Regions from separate parts of the Homo sapiens genome. Here region 1 is linked to region 2. The links come from fine-mapping of genetic effects on gene expression. A gene starts in region 2. The other region holds a variant in brackets. All regions are shown on one strand. Distances are between the middles of the regions. Region 1 overlaps CXCR5 (C-X-C motif chemokine receptor 5). Region 2 holds the start of BCL9L (BCL9 like).

Region 1 (2,895 bases), 32 kb after region 2:
GTGACATCCTCACGGGGGCAGGGCACGGCTTCCTGGGGCCTGGGGACTTCCCTGCCTCAGTGTGTTTCTTACACTTCCCTGCCTAAGGTGATGCCACGGAGGGGATGGTTGAGATGACTCCCACGGGCCCCTTCCAGTCCACCTTTCTCCGTTCCGACTCTGAGTTTCCTCGGGTCTATAGCTTATGGGAAGGGAGTGAGGAGGGGACAAGCCAGCCTCCTTCCCCATCAATGCCCACAACCTCCCATCCCCTGGACCCAGCCACCCTAGGAGTTCTCCACCCCACCCCATCTCGCCTGGCGGAGGGGACCGCCGGGTTTGATTGATCCATCTCCCTCCTTGGGGTTCGGGAAGAAAGCTCTTTTCTTCCCTCTGTCGGGTTTCTTTCTTGCTTCTCGGCCTTCACGCTTCCTCAGGTCACTGGCTGGCCTCCAAGGGCACCTAGAGTCAGCCCTGCCTGCAGACCACCCAGGATCCGGTGACATGGGGTGGACCCAGCGCTGTTTCGGTCAGAGCCAGGGGCAGCTACCTGAACTCAACCAGTCTGAGCTTCCTGCTTGGTCAAGATGACTGCAGGCTTGGGGGCCTGGCAGAATGTCTGTGTTTTTAGGGACTGAGTTGTCCGAAGGCCACACTCTGCTGCCAGCTGGCCTTTCCTCAGCCTTAACCTCCACTCATCCCCTGGTGCTCAGCTTCTGGCTTTGTTTGACAGGTGGGCAGGAGGAGAGAGGGGAAGCTGTGGAGGTCAGCAGCCCCTAAGCTGATGGAGTGTGTTCTGGGAGGGGCAGGCGCTCTCCGTTGGCAAGGGCAGAAGTAGAAGTTGTTTCTTGAGCATTGGATGATTAGGATGGGAGGTGCGTGAGGTTCTCTCAGCCCAGGGGGGTGCAGATGGGTAAGGACAGCCTTCACTGTGCCTTTGAGCTGCTTTCCGCTCCCTGGGCTCCAGCCTAGCCCCAGGGCCGGCAGAAGAGCTGGCAGGGATGTTCTAGAAATGGGGGTTGGTTCCTCTAGCTACCCCAAATGAGGATACTCCTAGGACACTCTTAGCCACGGTGAGCCCTTAGGATCCCAGCTCCTGTTGGAAGGAGCATCCAGCATCACTGCCTGCCCCAAGGAAAAGCAGCAATAAAAGGGGACACTGGGACCTAGAACGTGGTGAGAGAGGTGGCATTCTCTGACTCAGAGAGACTGCTCCTGCGCCAGCTAGGGAAGAGCTGGCACAGGGAGGCAGGGCCGGTACAGCCCAGCTT[C/G]GTCAGGAGCCGCGACAGGTCACTGCGGAACTTCACGCCGGCGAAAGTGTAGAGCATGGGGTTGAGGCAGCAGTGGGCCAGGCCCAGGAACTCACACATGGTGATGGCCACGGGGAGAGAGCCATTCAGCTTGCAGGTATTGTCCACGGCCTTCAGCCTCGCCAGGGTGTCCAGGAAGATGACGATGTGGTAGGGTGACCAGCAGAGGAAGAAGATGCTTGTCACCAGGATGGCCACCCTGACTGCCTTCTGCCGCTGAGGGCGCCGCTGGGCCTGGCGCAACCTGTGCACTACCCCCACGTAGCACCAGCCCATCACCAGCATGGGCAGCAGGAATCCCGCCACATGGTAGAGGAATCGGGAGGTGAACCAGGCATGCGTTTCTGCTTGGTTCTCTTGGGAGAAGGTGCAACGTGGCAGGGAGTTGTTGTGATGGCCTTGGCTGACTTTGGCGAAGAGAATCTCTGGCAAGGCAAGGAGGAAGCCCACCAGCCAGATGGTCCCACAGGTGATGTGGATGGAGAGGAGGCGGCGGTGGCGGTAGGCATGGACGGCGTGGACAATGGCCAGGTAGCGGTCCACGGCGATGCAGGCCAGGAGCAGGCTGCTGCAGTAGAAGTTGACTTTGTGCAGGGCAATCACAGTTTTGCAGAGGAAGGTCCCCAGGACCCAGCCCACAGAGCCCTCGGCCACGGCAAAGGGCAAGATGAAGACCAGCAGGAGGTCGGCCACGGCCAGGTGGAACAGGAAGGTCTCCGTGGAACTGCGTGTCTGCCGGTGCCGCTCCAGGATCACCAGCACCAGGACGTTGCCGATCACGCCCAGGAGGAAGATGAGGCTGTAGGCCACGGGCACGAACACGGCCTTGAAGGAGGCCATGAGGGGCCCCTCTGTGGCAGGGCAGAGATGATTTTCCACCAGGGAGGTGTCGTTATAGTTGTCCAATCTGTCCAGTTCCCAGAACTGCAAGGGCAAGGAGACGGGAGGGTGAGGACCTAAGGACCTGTCTTTCCTCTCTGAGAGGAACCCTAGCTCTCTTGGAGGTTTTTTCCTACATAGGGCCCACTGACCAAATGTCAAGTTTCAAATTTCAATTTTGAACAAATCACTTTGTCTTTTCCAACTTCAGTTTTTCGCCTGTCAAAGGGACCGCATTCCTTAGAGTGGTGGTGCTGATGAAGGGAGGCGTGCGGGTGGCTGAGCTTTGTAAGTGCTGGAGGGCTGGACCCCATAAGTCAGCTTGTGTTTTTGGGTCCTCATGTACGGAAGCCTGCAGCCTTGGCGGCTGGAGTCACAGGACTTCAATTTGGGGAATGGACCTGCTTGGTACAAGGACCCATCTGTTCCAGTTCTGAGCAGAACAGTCGGGCACTGCAACTTAGCATTGTGCTGGGGACTAGGGGCGGGCGGGTGCTGACTTGGCCTGTGGGCTCCCTCCTCATGGGTCTTCCTGTTCCTGACTGTCTCTGTTATCACTGAAATGGCAGTAATAGCCTCCCATCTGGTTCAATATGCACAACCCGCTCAAGGTATGTAATATTATTCCTATTTCACAGATGTGTCTTGCTAAAGATCAGGTTTGTGTGAACCGACGTTTATCTACTTCCAAAGCCAGTACCTCCCACTGAACAACCCTGCCTGGGCT
Region 2 (2,895 bases):
TTGGCACCATCAACCCCTCAAGGCCCTTAGGAATCTTTTGGGGGAAATCAGACATATATATATATGTGTGTGTGTGCATACACCTATACATATATAGGGGTGTGTGTGTGTATATATATATGTGTGTGTGTGTGTGTGACAAGATACAACACATCAGGAAGTACTCAGATGCTATGATGGGATAGGTGGTCAGAAGAGAGGGAGGTCAGTGAGGCTAGAACTATCTGGGGACCATCTGTGAGGAGGGGCAGGGGAGAGGGCCGAGGAAACAGCAGGAACAAGCAGGCTGGCTAGTGTTCTTCCTATCAGACACAGTCAATGCTTGTCACTTGCTATTAATTCTGGGTGGGTGGGGACAGTAGGAAACAGGGAAAGTGCCCTGGGATAAGGAGACCCAAATTCTAGTCCTGGGCTTACCACTTTCTAGCTGGGTAGCTCTGGGTAAGTCCTTAGGTAATGCAAACCTCAATTTCCTCACCTCTGTAATGGGACCATAACCTCTTTCTTGCAGGTTTGTGGTGAGCATTGAAACATGTGAAATGTTTTTAAAAAGCGCTTTGGGCCGGGCGCGGTGGCTCACGCCTGTAATCCCAGCACTTTGGGAGGCCAAGGCAGGTTGATCACCTGAGGTCAGTAGTTCGAGACCAGCCTGGCCGACATGGTGAAACGCTGTCTCTACTAAAAATACAAAATTAGCCGGGCATGGTGGCAGGTGCCTGCAATCCCAGCTACTTGGGAGGTTCAGGCAGGAGAATCGCTTTAACCCAGAAGGCAGAGGTTACAGTGAGCTGAGACCGCGCCTTTGCACTCCAGCCTGGGCAACAAGAGCGAAACTCCATCTCAAAAAAAAAAAAGGGCTTTACATTTTCTTTTTCATTGCCTCGATCGTCCTATAGGGTGGTGAGAGTGTGTGTGTGTGTGTGTGTGTGTGTGAGAGAGAGAGAGAGAGAGAGAAGCACTTTGAGGTTAGGTTAGGAGAGTTCTTTTGAGAAGACAAAGGTTTCACTTCCACAAACATTTTCTTAGCATGCACTTTGTGCTGCTGAGGATTGAGATGAAAAAACTCAGTCTGTGTCCTCAAGGACCTCATGGTCTACTAGGAGAGACATGAATAAAGAGATGCTCAGTGCATTATGGATGTGGGTGGGTACAACGAAGAGGGGACCCAGTGCTGTGTGTGTGTGTGTGTGTGCGCGCGCGTGTGTCCAGGCAACTTCCACTCCTTCCAATCAGTGCAGATAGGAAGGTAGGTTTGTCAAACCTTTCCCTAGCCTGGGATGTTGTTGGCGCGTCTCCTCCCCAGTTCTCAGGAGTGAGGAGGAGAGCAGAAACCCCCCTCCCCGCCCCCGGGCCAACCTGCCTCCCGCTAGCCGGCCGGGCGCCTTACCGAGTCAGACCACTGGGAGGCTGGGGGAGCCGGGTTGGGCGAGGAGGCAAGCGAGATGGGGGAGCTCTTATTTTGACAGGGGCCTCTCCGGGCTCTGGTATGAAGGCAGAAGGAGGCAGCCAGAGAGCCCCGATGCTTATTCAGGCTGGGGAGTGGAGCCGAGTGGAGGGGCAAGCGAGGCTCCGGCAGCGCAGGGGAGCCCGGGGAGGCGGCGGCGCGCGGCGGAGCCAGTGGCTGGACATGCCCCGGACCCGGGGCCGCTGCACCACCGCCGCCGCCCGGAGCCAGCCGGCCGGACGCCCGCACGCCTGGGTCCCCCGGCGCCGCGCCGCCCGGGGGCTGTGACCCGGACCCTCGGAGTCCGACCAACAATAAGCGCCCAGACAGCCCCTCCCCACCCAGCGCCCGGCATTCCCGCGGGCTTTGGGGAAAGGAAAGGAGAGGCGAGGAAGGAAGGAAGGAAGCAAGCAAGCAAGCAAGGGAAGGAGGAGCAGGAGCAGGAGCCGGAGCCCTGAGGTTCGGGGCCGAGACCCCGGCCCCGCGCCCCGGCCCCGGCGGGTGTGCGCGCTCTCCCGCCACTGCCCGGCGCCCGCGACCATGCTCCGCGGTTGGGAGGCAGGAACCCAGGCACCCAGCGATCCCCGGATAGCCTCTCCCGGGCCGGGCTGGTATTGAGATCAAGGCGTCCAGGATCAAAAGATCACCGCCTGCCCGCCCCCTCTGCATCTCCAACTGGCGAGCAGGAGGACCCCCATCCACACAACGACCCTGACCTGGTCATGGCGTCCAGCTCCGGCCTGGCGTGAGGACCCCCCAATCCGCGTGAGGTGAGGGGTGGGCTGGGGGCAAGGCGAAAGTCATGCCAGGCCAGCAGAGGCGCGAGGAGGGAGATCCAGTTTGAATCGGGGAGGGGAAACACAGTCTGATTGTCTCTTGCTCTCTGGCACGTACCCCCAGGCTGTTTAAGGTGTGGGGGACTCCCCCAGGGTCAGTGGAGGCTACTCTTAAGCCCCCAATCAGGTTGGCAGCTCCAGAACACCGTGGGGAGGGCTTAGGGACAGCCAGGGGACCCTGCCACCCTAGCGCAGAGAACAAGGCCGGCCTTGGGCCAGCTGGAGCAGCGAACCTTGCCCTGGGGGCTTCTGGGAGATGTAGTCCCCCTCCCAGGCTCACCAACCCCGTGGGTCTCAGCACCCCAGCCCTCCTCCTCTGGCTGATAGGAGCCTCCAGAAGGAGGTGGGTTGGGACTGGGGAGAGCTGGGGGTCACCCTTTTCTCCCAGGCACTGCCTGTGAGTAGCGGGGGCTGTGACTGAGGAGTCTCTTCTTCCAAGGCTTCTGAGTGATGTGGGCTTGGCTGGGGGGTGGGGCAGTCATACAGTTCCTTGGAAGTGTCCCTGCGCTGCTAAGGGGAGGTGGCCCCTGTCTTGATCCAAAGGAACCCTCGGGGAAGAATGTAGGAAGAGAAGTGAGCTTAGGCTTCTTGTTGCGCTGGGGTAGGTCCTATTCC

The links. PIP is the estimated chance that this variant, and not a neighbour inherited with it, causes the effect.
Region 1: its variant is the best candidate, but not a certain one, in a credible set for the expression of BCL9L in whole blood (TOPMed, PIP 0.76).

The regions. Positions count from the first base shown.
Region 1 is chr11:118,892,914-118,895,808 of GRCh38, reverse strand. It overlaps CXCR5 (C-X-C motif chemokine receptor 5), which reads right to left. Exons shown (of 2, transcript NM_001716.5): 2 at 1-2,213. The coding sequence ends at 1,146. Among named protein-coding and RNA genes, the nearest start is that of CXCR5, 10 kb to the right of the region's middle. RefSeq lists an enhancer at 1-45. The variant C/G (reference allele first, on the strand shown) is at 1,251.
Region 2 is chr11:118,924,557-118,927,451 of GRCh38, reverse strand. BCL9L (BCL9 like) reads left to right here and starts at 1,526. Exons shown (of 10, transcript NM_001378213.1): 1 at 1,526-2,214. RefSeq lists silencers at 402-461, 1,282-1,421, 1,622-1,671 and enhancers at 1,867-2,368, 2,740-2,809.